2 linked regions of the Homo sapiens genome follow. The protein of the gene in region 2 interacts with the protein of the main gene of each other region in a pairwise test. Each region holds a gene or a part of one and is shown on either strand. Other genes may lie near its edges.

Evidence for each region. The genes of interacting proteins can lie anywhere in the genome.
Region 1: the proteins of ZNF326 (region 2) and BRINP1 interact in binary tests that used the Homo sapiens proteins (3 or more experiments, as listed by UniProt).

Annotation. Positions count from the first base shown.
Region 1 is NC_000009.12:119,365,874-119,373,705, forward strand, and holds the start of BRINP1 (BMP/retinoic acid-inducible neural-specific protein 1 precursor), read right to left. Parts: upstream 3,563-7,832; 5' UTR 3,183-3,562; intron 1-3,182. UniProt on the Homo sapiens protein: Plays a role in neurogenesis and brain development. May suppress cell cycle progression in postmitotic neurons by inhibiting G1/S transition.
Region 2 is NC_000001.11:89,990,810-89,998,464, reverse strand, and holds the start of ZNF326 (DBIRD complex subunit ZNF326), read right to left. Parts: upstream 3,356-7,655; 5' UTR 3,208-3,355; coding exon 3,192-3,207; intron 356-3,191; coding exon 311-355; intron 1-310. UniProt on the Homo sapiens protein: Core component of the DBIRD complex, a multiprotein complex that acts at the interface between core mRNP particles and RNA polymerase II (RNAPII) and integrates transcript elongation with the regulation of alternative splicing: the DBIRD complex affects local transcript elongation rates and alternative splicing of a large set of exons embedded in (A + T)-rich DNA regions.

The DNA of each region.
Region 1 (7,832 bases), on a different chromosome or scaffold from region 2:
CCCGGAAAATCCTGCATGGAAAAGGCTCTATTGCAGATGGGCCTAAAACCCCCATGTTTTTCAGTATCTGCCTGCACCCCGAAACAGGCATCTAGAAGTCTAAGAGCACGCTTTTGAGTGAACTCGATTCTGACTTCTCCAGGGTCTCTCTTTCACAGGGCTTTACATTTCTCCTTCCCTGGAGTTTATGGGTCCTACTCTTCACATGGGAGATGCTTTATATGGGAGAACACAATTTGGTGTGGAGGTTCTCTTTTTTGGAAATGTAGCAAGCAGGAAAGGTTTCTGGATCTTTGTGTGCACATGTGTGTATAAGCACACCTATGCATGTGTGCTTGCATATGCTTCTGTGCCTGTAATATGTATTAATGTCTAGGGGTGAGATTCTAATTAATATAAAGAAATTAATTTGCCTGAAGTATTTGCACTGGTAGATGGGTGTACATTTTGCTCTCTGGAAACCAGTGCATTCCTTAATAAAAATCTTAGATACAGACCAGACACTTTGCTGGGTTCTGCCTACCAGTCACACTCAGTACTGGGTCCTTGCTTGTCGGTAATTCCCTAAAGACATTGGAGAAGGAATCTATGTTCTCTCTCTGTCTCTCTCTCAGTCCTCCCCCCACCACCGTGTGTGTGTGTGTGTGTGTGTGTGTGTGTGTGTGTGTGTGTGTGTGTGTGTGTGTGTCTTTCGGGAATAGTGATTGAGGCATTGGATCTTTTCTCTTCAGGGCCATGTTTCCAGATAGAAAAACCCTGAAATGCATCTCTGAAAATGTGAAGTTTGATGAGGGAAGACAAGCGATTGTCTTGGTAGGGGTCATGGTGGCAGGTTGGCAAGATAGGGGTGGGAGCAATATACAGTCCTAGAGTGTATATTGCTGGGAGGAGTGGAAAGGGTATTGATCTAGCTGATTGATAAGCCTAGATTCTAGTCCTGGGCATGCCACTAACCCACTACTGAATGTTGGGGAATTCTCATTCCCTCTTTAGGCCACAGAGTCCTGCCTTTCTGCTCTTTAATATTCCTTCCAGTTTCGATCGTCTGTGAATTAGGAAAGAGAGAAAATGAGGCAGTTCCCAAAAATGGGTCTCCTCCTTGGCCCTAGTACCCCCTACCCAAGATAATCCAGGGAGCTCTGCCCTGACATGAGTTTCCTGAAGGAGATTCTCTGTGGCTATGTGAAGGCTTCAGCCTGAGGTATCAGCCTCTGGACAGAGAATGGTATGTCTGCAAGTGCCTGCAGGTAGAACCCACCCACTAGGGCAGGTTCCTACAAATACATGTTTGCTTTTATCTCTCCCCAGAATATGAACACATGTGTGTGTGTGTGTGTGTGTGTGATTGATATATATATATATATATATATCTTCCTAGAATATATGTGTACATTTTTTAGGCCAAATATATTTCTACTTTTTTCCCCTAAGAGGGCTTTTCAGCGGCCCCTCCGTGCTGAGCTAGACAAGAGGCTGTGTCCCAGCGTCACAGCCCTTGTCTTCTCCTAGCCTCCCTGCCTGAGAGCAGAACGGCTGCCGCTTACCTTGAGAAAGTAACAGCTGCCGAGTCTGGAAGCCATGCTAACAGCAGTAAAACTCAGCATTTTTGCTGAGTAGGGCAAGCCTTTAAGAGGCAGCTGGGAATCAAATCAATGGCTGGCCCCAGAGCCCAAGCCCAACAGTACCAAGCCAGGGTGGCCAAGGGACCTACCTAAAGAGCCTCCCAGGAGATGGAGGAAAGAAGAAAGAGGGCCTTGACCCAAACTACCTTCCTGGCTGAGATTCCTCCACCGCCCCCCTGCCCTTGGCAGTATTTTGGAGCCAAGTGAGAGACGCGAGGTGCAAACCGACAGCAGTTTAAGTCAATTACTGCCACATTCTGTCATGGGTTCCACACTCACAGCCCCTTTTCAAATTGTAGATCTCCCTCAGTACTGAAACACTCTCTCTCTCTGTCTCCCTCTCTCTCGCTCTTGCTCTCTCTCTCTCCCTCTCCACCTCTCTGCCTTCTCTCAATATCCCCCTAACTCCAGGGGAGCCATGGAGAGGCATATTTAGGGAGAGACTCTCTGGGGGCTTCCCCGCCTGAAATGGGGAAAGAAAGACGAATCTGTCTTAGGAAAGTGCCCCATCCATCTCCTTCCATATCATCCACAGCCGCCCCAGATGAAATTTCCTCTGAGACCCTTTGCAACTGTGATGGATGAGCAAGTCCCCGAGGACGCTTTCTCCTTTCCCCTGAGGGGGATCCATGCAAACTTGCCAGATCCTCCCCAAAACCAACAGAAGCCGGAGGGGCTCTGTTGATTGCAAACGGGGATGCAGGGTAAATCCCTATCCCAGACTTTCCAAGCCCCAGATAAGGAGCCCACCGCTGACTTCCCCCTTTCTCTGTCACCCACTATCCAGTGTCTCCAAATTCCCATCAGAATCTTGGAGTCTGCCCAGTGTAGAATTTAAAGTGACAGCGTCTCATTTGCCTCGGGGGTTGGCCATGTCTCTTTCATATTAAGCTGTGGGTCCCAGTGTAGCAGGATTCCACCGTTTGGAGGAATTTTCCTTCAAGCGTACCAACATTGGGCTAAATAAGGTGCCATCTACAGCCCCATAATCCTCCCCAAACCCCAAGCCCAGAGCCCCAAGAGGAAGTCCACAGCGGGTTTCCCGGTGACTACGTGATCCTATAGTAAGGGTCCCATTCCGTGTAAGCTGGAGAGACCTAATTAAAAAGACACACGAGGGCACACATACAAACACATACGTACAAACATGCACACACACATCGCGCCGTAAGTAGGTTATAGGACCTCTCTCTCTTCACCCCTCCCTTACACACACGGACACACACACACACCACGAACACACGCATCAAACGCAAACGACGCCGCACACGCAAACACACTAGCACCACATCAAGTTCCCACCATGGTGCACACGTCGGGAGCGCGCGGGGACACACACGCCACTCACTCAAACCCGCAATTAGCCCTTTGAGCCCCAGGCACAGGAACCCCCTCCCTAGAACTGGAGAAGACTTGGAGGCGGCGGGGCGGCCAGGTGAAGAGCGGACAAGGGTGCCGGTAGGGGGAGGGGCAGAGGAGCGCGGGGACGCCCCGAATGCGGCCCGGGGCCGGGTCCAAGGGCAGCGGGGCTGCGGGGCGCTGCACCCGGCGCCGCCTTACCTGGAGTCAATGTCCGTCTTTGGCGGAGAGCTGCGGGAGGACGCTTTTTATTCGGCTCGGTGGGAACTTGGGAGAGCCCTGCGTGCAGCTCGCATTCCGGGCACGGCGCGGGGACTGCAGGCGTGGGGGTACCTGGCTCCTAGCAGCCTGGCTCATACTCAGCCGTAAAGTCCCCTTCGCTGGTCCCGAGGACAGGCATGAATCCCGGCTCCGGAAGGCGGTCACTACTCCCTCTGCCTCCCGGCTCTCTCGCTCTCGCTCTCGCTGTTGCTCGCTCGCTCTCTCCCTCTCTCGCGGGTTCGCTCGCCTGCGCTCTCCTCCTCCCCGCGCGCCAGATCAGTTTGCAGCCGTGGGGTCCGGGAGCGAGGCGGCTGGCGAATGGAGAGGGAAGTCCAAGTGCGCCGCGGTCTCCGGGCGGGGAGCGGCGGAGGCCGGGCTACGCCGGGGGAGGGACTTAGCCGGCGACGGCCGAAAATGAATGGGGGAGCGGCGGCCGGGGGGCGGGGAGGGAGGAGCTGAACGCCGGGGTTGCTTCCGAGGAGTGTTTTGTACATCTTTAGGCGGAGGAGGAGGAGAAGCGAGAGGAGGAGAGACGGGAGGCCGCCTCGAGGGAAGGGCGGCCCGGGTGGGCTGGGGCTGAGCCGTAGGGAGTTTCGTGGGTCTGGGGCGTGTAGGGTGTTGTGTCTATGCGCACGAGCATCCAAAGGGACCGCGCATACGCGCAAACCCGGAATCCTGGTGCCCTTAAGCGTGACTGTACTGTGTGTGTCGCGAGTACCTGAGTGTTTCTGGGGCGGCAGGTGTTTCCACGGCCGCGTGGATCCATCGAGTGTGGGTTTTGTCTCGGGAGTTGCCCGTGTGGGTCCGTTTGTGTCTGCGCGTCTCTCTGTGAGTGTTTGACACTGTTTGTTTCTCTCGGTGTGTAGGCGAGAGCCCACGTAACCTCCCAGAATGAAGCAAGAGCTTCTCTACGTAGGCAGGATGTAGGAGGGAGAAGCTGAGGGGACACGAAGTTCTCTGGAGACCACCAGAGGCGGGGAAGGGGCGAGGGTACAGGGACTAAGACATGAAAATAAAAAGCAAAATACTCTGCAATCAGCCTGAATGCAGGCTGGGGCTGCTAACATAGGGCCTCTTCCTGAAGCAGAAAATAAAGCCCTCGTATGATAATTCCCACACAGCGCACATTTGGTATGTTTGTTTACTTTGCTTCCCTTCTGATTTAAACCAAATCAGCAATGCAGATCCCTAGTCCCCTGAAGATTAGGCAAGAATAGAAAGCATTAAGGCTACCAGATGGAGGGGCAGGAAGTCATAGGAAAAGGTGTTGGAATATGTAAAAGAGCCAGATTCAGTAGAAGTGCAGGCTCCAGAGAGGTTGGAGTCCTGTAGCTGTCTGGTCTTGGTGAAATCACTTACCCCTTAAGCCTCAATTCCTTGTCTGTTTAATAGAATAATAATATATCTACCCATCTAATAGGGTTGATGTGGAATTGTAATGAGTTAATATATGCAAAGGCACTTAGACTGCTCATGAGTTAATGTATGCAAAGGCACTTAGACTGCTCCCTGACACCTAGTGAGTGCTCAGTGCATGTTGTCTGCTTTTATGATTGCCATTGTATGTTTTTTGTTTGTTTTTTAATTCAAAGGATGATAAGAGAGAGATGTGACCACCAGGGAGGCCTAGAACAATCTAGGAGCCAGTGAACTAATTGGAGGAAGAGGAGTCTTGAAACAAAATGGAAGAGAAATGTTTGAGTGATGAACTGGGAACTCGGGAAAAATTATTTAATCGACAAAGAGAAAGGGAGAAAGAGAGGAGAAGACATCGAGCTAGCCAGAATGATCCTGGGTCTCAGAAGGTCAGGACTGAGGGGAGAGGAAAGGGAGAGGAGGAGCAGCCAGTGCAGAGCTTCTCAGCCTTCACTGGAATCCCAATGAGGAGGAGTCAGCACCACGGACAGCTCTCCAGCCACAAACCCAGTCAGCGATTTCTATTTTCGCCTGGTGGAAATTTCTCCCTTTTTTCTTGGGCAACTTTCTCTTTCCCTTGGCTTCTGGTCCAGGTTCAGGTCTTGAACACAGGTTCCCCAGGTCAGTTCTGACTTTGATTCTGACCACGAAGAAATACGCCCACCACACACACTCCTTCTCCCACCCACCGCGGTATGAAACCCCAGGTCACTATCTCTTGCCTCTCCTCCTTTCTTTCTTTTCTCTCTCTCTCTTTCTGTCTGTGCCCCATTCCTTCCTTTATTCGTCCCTATCTTTCTCTTTGTTTCCCCATCATCCCCCAGCTGAGATCTACTTCCATGACTGTTAGTAGGCAACAGCTGCCCTGCTGATAATGCAGTTCTGAAATCAATCTGAGACAACGTAGTCAGGCAACTTCAGGTGAAGACCAAAGTTCTGACTGATTCTTCTTAACCCTTTCCTTGTAATCAATCTCCCAAGATGGGTTGTGGTCTACATACCTTAGAAAGTGGGGACTTAATGCTTTGGAATACTGTCCAGTCTTTCTCTTCCTCACCCCACCCAGTCAATATTTCCCTAAAGAAAAAAAGAGCTCTTCTAGTTCCAACCAATACTACACAGAGAGAAAGAGGAGAGAGAATTTTGAACTTTTACCGTGCACCAAGCATTTTATTTGCAATGTTCTGAATATTATTGCTTACAGTTCTGAAAATACTTTGCAGTATGAATAGATAATACTATCCCATCTTTATGGCATAGGAAATTGAGTCTTGAAAAACTTGAGTATATGCCAAACTAGCTATATGCCAAAATATAGCTAGTAGGTGATGGAGTCAGGAATTCAACACCCAAGTCCAAGTCCAAAATCTTTATCCTCTGGGAATAATGGGGAAGCCCTGGGGTGATTGGAAGTTCTTGGAATTTTATGGGGTCACTGCACCCAACCCTAAATATCAACTTAGATGTCTGGATCCATTGCATTATCTGTGTCCCATCCCAATGGATGATTTAGTGTATCTTGTCCCTGGAGAAGGAGGTGAAGACTTTGCATGGACAGATTTAAGGCTCACTCGAGCCTTATGGTTTCTGAGTTTTGAATAAAATGCCAACCTTTCCAGGTCTTAGTTCATTTGCATTTGGCTCAGTTTAGCTTTCCTGTTTCTATGAAGAAAGGCTAAGAGGGCCATTTTAAAATGTCTCCGAAGACACCTTGGTCATCAGAAAAGTTCTCAGTGCAAAGCATTTCTAATGACTTATGGAGAATGCAATCAAAACCATATGGATAACATTTTTGCAGAAATACACACGGGTGGGAAAAGGTTTAGAGGCCAAAAATATATTTCTTTTTTTCTTCTTTGCCAAAGAAAGAACATTTAAGGCAGCTTGAGATATGTGAGAAATGTCTTGTTCTTTCTTTGGGGTGGGTGTTGGTGAGCAGCTGTTTGCTATTTCCACCGAATTTACTAAGGGCTTCCATGGGGAGGAGCTGCCAACAGATTAGGATAGACTTAAGAAAGAACTTCCTGTCTGTAGATTTTGGGGTGACACTAAAATAGGACCTTTTGTACAATGGCATTTAATAAGAAAATGGAATGTTTCACAGCATTTCATTCATAGTATGATAGATTTGAAAATCAATGGATAATATTTTTAATATCACAGACTGTTTTAAGAACCTCACTATTGCTATAGACCCTCTCTGTTGTGGAAAATGTACTATAAAAAATCTCACACAATTTTACATGGAGTTTCACTAAATTTGTCTTTGCCAATCTCATTTGTGAATATCTATCCCTGGACCCCAGCTTTAGGACTCTAGAATAGGTGGCTTTTCTGGCCTGTAATCTGACCTTAGATTTTATAGGTTGCTTTACTTAGACTTAAGCTTAAGAAATTGCAAAGGGAAATCCAGTGAATAAATTAATAAACAGGTAAGCATCATTTTTTTCTAGAAATAGACAAGAAATATAGATAAATGTTCAGTGATGAAATGGAGGTTTCACTTACCCCTCCTTAAATAAAGATAAGATTTTGTCCTGTTTGTGCAGGACTCTCAGCCACCTGCCACTGTCTCAAAAGCTTAAGTTCACTACTCCTGTCAAATCTCAAAGGAGTTAAAATCCCTTAATCTGGGGTGCTTTGGGTTCAGAATAGGCTGAACAACTGCTGAAAGAAGCCTGTATTTCTTAAGCGCCTACTGACTGTGAGGTAGTATGAAAGATTCCGAGATAAATATCTTGCCTGGTCTCTGTCTTCTAGGAGTCTGAAATCCATTGCAGAGCCATACTCATGCCTAAATAATCAGAATACACCATAGAATGTAGCAGGCATGCTCAGGGTCTATAGGAAATATTGAAAAGCTAAAAGGAGGAAAATTTTGCCTCAATGTTAGGTATAACATTTTACACCTATAAACAGCTATTTTTCTTTAGTTTTAAAAACAGTTGAATTCATAATAACTGATATTTATTGAGTGATTAATATGTGTGAGCAACATTTAAGCCTTCCATGTCTCTCAACTAGGCTATTATGAGCCTCTTTTCATTGAATAAAAAACGCTGGCCTAGCGCAGTGGCTTATGCCTGTAATCCCAGCACTTTGGGAGGACAAAGCAGGTGGATCACGTGAGCTCAGGAATTCGAGACCAGCCTGTGCACCATGAAGAAACACTTT
Region 2 (7,655 bases):
TTCAACCAAAATAACTCAGCCAGTGTCTTGTGATTCATCACTCAGAATGTAGTTAGGCCCTTTGGAACACATTAAAATAATCATAATTCAAACAAAATGGACCAAAAAAAAAATCAAACTAATGTGAATAACCCCTAACATTTTCTGATAGCACATTCCCCAATTCAAATACTATATATAGTAAGACAATATTAACACATAAATGATATATCAAGAACCAAAACAAGGACTGAAATAGGTAGAACTGGCCTTTTACATTGATACTATATTTTTATGCGCATGAAGAGAAAAGCTGAAAGAGGATACTTACCATTAAAGCCCTGATAAGTATTCCTGCAGGCGGAGTGTGTGTAATCTATGAAGACACATTTAACAAAAAGGAATTAGTGTGATATTAGCAATAATTCAAAATTATATGCCGATCCAGTAAAAAACAAGCACAATTTTTAAAATGACATTAACCCAATTATCTGCAAAACTGAGAATAGTTAAAACAAATAATTACCAATACTCCATTCCAGAAAATGTATCTCTTTTTTCTTCACTATCTCCCCAAATGGTAGGTTTATTATCCAAATTATGGTAAACATTAGTTTACAACACCTGATACATAATAACAGCCAAAAGAGGGGATTCAGCACTGATTTGTACCAAGTAACACAAAGGCAGATAGATTAAATTATGTATCAAATAATGCAAAAGCAAAGACATCTGAGAATTGTACGTAACATGAAATTTTTGCTAAGTTAATTTCTTTTACCATTTAATTTGCTCTTTAAAGATTTCAAGATCTTGGCCGGGCACGGTGGCTCACGCCTGTAATCCCAGCACTTGGGAAGGTGAGGTGGGCGGGTCACGAGGTCAGGAGTTCGAGACCAGCCCGTCCAATATGGTGAAACCCTTTCTCTACTGGAAATATAAAAATTAGCCGGGCCTGGTGGTGCGTGCCTGTAGTCCCAGCTACTAGGGAGGCTGAGGCAGAAGAATCACTTGAATCCAGGAGGCAGAGGCTGCAGTGAGCCAAGACTGCACCACTGCACTCCAGCCTGGGCGACAGAACGAGACTCTGTCTCAAAAAAAAAAAGATTTCAAGATCTTATCTGAGACATGCATATGCATATACATATATGACTGTGTTCTATATTCAAGCAGAATGTGTCATCACTGAAAACCATATTGCCAATTTCCTCATCAAAACTAATTTAACAACTGTTAAATTCTTTAGTTAATTTTACAAATATATACTGAAAGAACAGAATTTAATATAGTGGTCATCTGGATACAACAGAATCCTGCTACACTATACAGGAATAGATTCATATATGGTGTTAGTCAAACTCCATCTTCCAAATACAGCAGTGGTATATTTGGGCAGTGAGACAGGGCGTATTTCATCACTAATATTGTTTAGAATTTCTATCACTGACACTGTTTAGAATTCTGGCATATGGCAATAACAGAAAGCAGACATACTACATTTTATTATTGTTTTTCAATTCTCCATAGAAATGGATTCCCTTATTGCCTTGGGTGGGGAGTGGAAAGAACTGTTTCTACTGCCCCACCTCCACTTTGTTAGCCTCTGCTATACCTTGGGTGTTGGCATTATCATCAAACTACAGCATGAAAATACAATAATATATTTTTTATTTTCACTCCCAACTCTGGCCACTTCAAATATTCATAGTTTTTTGTTTTGTTGTTGGTTTTTTGTTTTTTTTTTTTCAGACGAAGTTTGGCTCTTGTTGCCCAGGCTAGAGTGCAATGGCACGATCTCGGCTCACTGCAACCTTCGCCTCCCGGGTTCAAGGGATTCTTCTGCCTCCGCCTCCCAAAGTGCTGAGATTACAGGTGTGAGCCATCGTGCCCAGCCCAAATATTCATAGTTTAAAGGTATCTACATCAAAATGAGTTAAAGTCCAACCAAAACAAACAAAACCACGAGAGTGTGCTACTCTTAAGAGCTGAACTTACTATTTCAAAGTAACTGAAAAGTATCTACAAGAGGGCTATTCCAGTCCCCTTTCACAAATCTGTACCTAGATATGAAAGCTTTAATTCTTTGTTGCATGAAATGTTATGAAAAATCAAAAGCTCATCGAGTAAGACATATGCTGAGATCACACCTCATTTAAAGATCATTTTTTTGGTGGGGTTAAAAGTTTACAGCCTACTTAGTGAACTGGTTTTACTTAAGCATGCCTGGTTACTCAGGATTAAATCCAGTTTAATCACATAAGTCCTTTCCCATGTCTCCCTAATGTTGTCACTACATACCACTTTATCTTGACACCAATTCCAAGCAAGGTTTGAAAACAAAAGTGAAGACCAAATTAATATTACTTTGTGACCCTGTAAAAGTGGTTTAAAGAATTAGTATCTGAGACAACTGAAAAGTATTGCTAAAATACAGTTTATTTAATCCGTAAGTCAAACACTTACAAGGCTGTGTACAGGTCTAAATGTGAAGGACATTTGATGCTTGCTGTGCCAAAATTCTGATTAACTTAAATCCTACCTACACACGATCCAAAGAAAAGTGCTTTGGTTCACATAAATATTTCAAGTTAGGGATTAATAAGCAGGTAATTTTTGGTGATAAACACCCCAGTTTACTAACCAGGAAACATCTTGCTTTCCATTTTGCATAGATATTTATCTATACATATCACTTACAGACACCCTTTCAACTCATCTTAAACCGGGACAAACAGAAACATCACTGTGAACAAGCCTCTGAAAATTCTATCTGGCAAGAAGTAACCCGAGGCTGAGGATTAACTAAACGGACGGTCTGGGTCGCTGCCCTGTGGGGCGAATGCGAGACTAGGTGGGTGAGGCCGCACTCGCCCGTTTGCCCGAGACCGGGAAGTTGGAGACGTCGGGGCAATTTCCACTACCAGGGGCCAAGGCGAGTCTGGGGCTCCAGCCCGGAGGCTCTCGCGCTCTAGGCGCGTCCTACCGGACACCGAGTTCTCTTGTCTCCGCCGGCAGCGGGCGCCGAGCGGGCCGAATCGGGGCGCGTGGGTCCCCAAAGAGGCCGACTCCGGGCGCTGGGCCCGGGGCGGGCGGGCGGCCTCCGGGCCCGCAGAACAAAGCCCACACGGCCATCTTGAGACGGTAAACAGACCCCCTGCGTAGGCCACCCCGCCTCCTGCCAGCTGCGCCGACCAGCCAGAGGCAGCGCTTACCGTCCTCGAAGTCCATGGCAGAGGCTGAGGGCCGTCGGCCTTGGCGGCGCTAGGCTGAGCTATGGCCGGCGGCGAGCGTCCGCGACCCGCGATTCCACACGATCACTCCGCGCGACCGAGAGCGGCGCGCTACCAGCCCGGGAGCCGCAGGCCACAGCGAGGCTGGGGAGGCGGGGCCGACCGGCGCTACCAGCCCCATCGGCGCGGCCTGCTATTGGCTGACGCGGGCTGGTGGGCGGGCCCTCGCGTGGGGGGCGGGAAGCAGGTCCGCTGTCACGCTCGGAGGTGCTGACCCTCTGGAGCCGCTGACGGGGAAGGAAGGTAAAAAAGGAGCGCTAAAGATTGGCGGGGGTTGTGGGAAAGCAAGCCGAGTGTACGGGAAGGGCCGGCTGCGGCCCGCCATGTTTGAACCTGGCAAGAGCGAAAGAAGCCGGTTGGAATGCCTTCTTCCTGCCCAAACTAATAAAACCGCATGCCTACCTTTTGCTTAGTATTGGCTAGGGATGACTAATCATAACATTTGTAAGTACTTACGGGGTTTCCTCCATGGAGACACAGAAGTCTGGGACGTTTCTAGAAGCCTGTGGCAAATTTGAAAAGCAAGATACAAAATAGCGTATGGAGTCTGATTATCGCTATGTCAATAAATTTTCTTAAAGGACAAAGCACTGAAATAAAATGGAAATAATAATTCTTTTAAAAAATTTTTAAATTATTTTTATAGAGATGGGGGTTTTGCCATGTTGCCCAAGCAGGTCTCCAACTCCTGGACTCAAGCGATCCCCCCACCCCCAGCCCCGTCTCCGCCTCCCAAAGTGTTAGGATCACAGGCGTGAGCCAATGCGACCCGCCTGGAAAGAATTCTAAAACATGGCCTGCTTGGCCACCGCCCAGGATCTGCAAGCTGCGCGCCCACAAGTTTCGGCACCCATTTGGACTTTCACAATCGGAGATGGCAGTGGTGAAGGCATCAACATCAAAAGCTACCAGGCCTTGGTATTCTCATCCAGTATATGCAAGATACTGGCAACATTATCATCAAGCAATGGCTTGGATGCAAAGCCACCACAATGCCTACAGGAAGGCGGTGGAATCCTGTTTCAGTCTTCCATGGTTCTTCCTTCCTGCGCTTCTTCCCCAAAGCTCTTACGATAACCAGGCTGCGTATCCTCAGTCCTTCTATGACCATCATGTGGCCTAGCAGGACTCCCCCTGCAGTTCTTCACATTTCAGAGGGTCTGGGCAACATCCACATGGCAGCAGTAGGATCCAGGCATCCACAAGAGAAGACCAAGCCTTATCCAAGGAGGAAGAGATGGAGACCGAGTCAGATGCAGAGGTAGCATGTGACCTGAGCAATATGGAAATCACCGAAGAGCTCCGCCAGTACTTTGCAGAGACAGAGAGGCACAGAGAAGAACTACTGCGGCGGCAACAGCTGGATGCGGAGCGCCTGAACAGCTACGTGAACGCTGAACACGACCTGTACTGCAACACCCGCCGGTCGGTAGAGGCCCCAGCTGAGAGGCCTGGTGAGCGGCGCCAGGCCGAAATGAAGCGTTTGTACTGGGACAGCGCCGCCAAGATCCAGGCCATGGAGGCTAACGTGCAGCTGAGCTTTGACAAGCACTGTGATCCAAAGCAGCCTAATTACTGGCCGGTCATCCCCCCGAAGTTCTGAGCTCGGGGCACAGGGCACCCAGCCTCTTCCTCTTCCTTTTGGATACGCGCTCTTCATCTCTCCTTCTGTACATTTCTCAGGGAAAGGGGACTTTGTACTGAGGTACAGGCACGTTCACCACAGTCCCAGTGGGCCTGTCACGGGGTGGATGTACTGTGCCAGCCACTTGGAGGTCGGCAGGACATATTCTGTTGCCAACATGATAAATTTTATCCTGACATAAAATGATAATTTTGTATATATTATACTGGTTTTTTATGTTGTCAGTAACAGTTCAATTCATTAAAGTTCTTGCCTAGAAAAAAAAAAAAGAATTCTAAAACATGAACGATGATTCTTTTTGTGATGACTTTTTATATACACATGATTATGTGTTCTTCTATATCTCCAAATTCTTGAGCACTTTCATAATGTAAAATATATATTTGGCCTAAAACAAGATTTATTATTTATTAATGATTAGTGTTTGTTAAAAGTTCTCTTTAGCCAAATATTATGTTTCATTTTCTTTGAAGATATACTTAGTGATGCGGAGGTGGGGGGCTCTCTTGGCCATTTAAGTCAGTGGTTCTTGATTGTGACTCTACTCTGGAATCCTCCAGGGCACTTTTAGTAAGTGCCAATACTCAGGTTTCACTTCAGGGGTTCTGATTTGATAATGAACCAAAACTGTCACCAATGTTTATTTTCAAGACATTTAAAAGAGATGTTATTGGACTAATTTCTCTTCTGTTTCAGTAACCTGTACTCCTTGAGAAAATGTCAAGTCTAGAAAAAATAACTTTAGAGACAGGCTATGATCCAGTTCTGAATTTTAAGGTGCAAATAAAAGAGCTGTAACAGTTCACAGATGGGTAAGATTTGTGGCAGAAGAGTCATCCAGAGCTTGAAGGATGACCTATAGAAACACACACACACATACTGGATTGTATTATTGCCACTTTGGAAACAGTGTTTGAGACATGGACAAAGTTATTCAAACATTCAGGAATCTGGAAAAAGACAAACTGACATTGGAGCAGTTTGAACCACAGATTAAAAAACTTTTTTTTTTTCATAGAGCAAACGGTGGCAACAATGAGTTGATCACCAGATAGGAAACCATGAATCAAATTATTTACCTTTTTTCAGGGTCCACCCAGTTGCTGGAACCAAGTTTCAAGGAGGCAACCTCTGGAAATACAACTACAAGAAAAGCTCACAGATACACTATGTGTATTACTGTTGCCCCGGAAATGGGCAGAGCATTTTTTCCTCCTCCATCCTGATTGATTCACCCTGTTCTCCACCCTTTTCTTGTTTCCTCCTTTTTTCCCTTCTATGCAGATACTTCTCCACTTACTTGAGGTTACATCCCAATAAGCCCTTCATAAACTGAAAATATCACAAGTCAAAAATGCATTTAATATGCCTAACCTATTGAACATCATAACTTCACCTAACCTACCTTAAATGTGCTTAGAACATTTACATTAGCCTACAGTTGGGCAAAGTCATCTGGCAGCACAGTACATTGTAGAATATCAGTTGTTTACCCTTGTGATTACATCGCTGACTGGGAGACGCTGCCCAGCCTTGGAAAAGAGTATCCTACTTCATGTCACTAGCCTGCAAAAAGATCAAAATTCAAAATTGGATTATAGTTTCTACTAAATGCACGTCACTTTCACACAGCTATAAAGTCAAACCATAGTAAGTCAGAGACCATCTATACATGTTTTATATTCACCTAAGCTGAACATTTTGAAAACTGAACTCATAATTTCAAACCTGTTCGTCCTCCTGTATCCTTTCATCTCTGTTAGTGGCATCATGAACAGCCACACACTAATCCCAGCTTACGAGTCATCTAGTCAAAACTCAGCCCTCCCTCATCCTCCCACCTCCAATCCATTCTGAAGTCTTTCATCTGTTTATTAGTGCCTAAAATATCTTAAACCTGCCCCCTCCTCTTCATCCCCACTGCCACAACCTAAGTTTAGACTCTCATTATCTCTCTCCAAAACTATTGCCTCAGCTTCCTAATTAATCTCTCTGTCTTTCAGCCTCCTCAGGGTTGCAGTGATCTAAATGCAAATCTCAACATGTCATCATGCGTCTCTGTCAAGGATTAGGTGTAGTCAAATCTCCTTACCCTAGAACACATGCAGCAGGATCTGGCCACTGCCTGAACTGCGTCATCTCTCTGCATTTCCCTTGCCTCCTCTCTCCCACACTCTCTCTTTTGATTACCAATTTTAGGCGACAGGTTCCCAAAACACCCCTGTGCTTTTTCATACCACTGAACTTTTGCTTATGTTGTTTCCTCTGCTTGGAACACCACCTGGTTAACCGTACTCATCTTCAAAACACAGCTCAGGATTTATTTCCTGTAAGAATCAGTCCCAGATCCCAACCCCACCCCCTGGGTCAGTACTTCTCAAATATTTAGCATGCAAATGATTCACCTAGGGACTTGTTAAGACAAAAATCACATTCAGTCAGTCTTGGGTGGAACTGGACAGTCTGTATTTCTAACAAACTTCCAGGAGATGCTGCCGCTGGTGGAGCCACACGTGGAGTAGGAAGGCCTTGGGTTCTGTGACTGCACTATCTCCCATGCATTAAATACCCTGGCTTTATGTCTTCCCACATTAAAAGCTCTTTGGGATTAGAATCAAGACTTCTTTGCATCTTAAGTGCCAAATATATATGTTTACCAAGAAAACTGAGTTCTCACTGAATGTTTTTAGCTTTTTTTTCTTATAATTTTCCCCCCGTTTTCCTCTGGCAAAGAAATGATT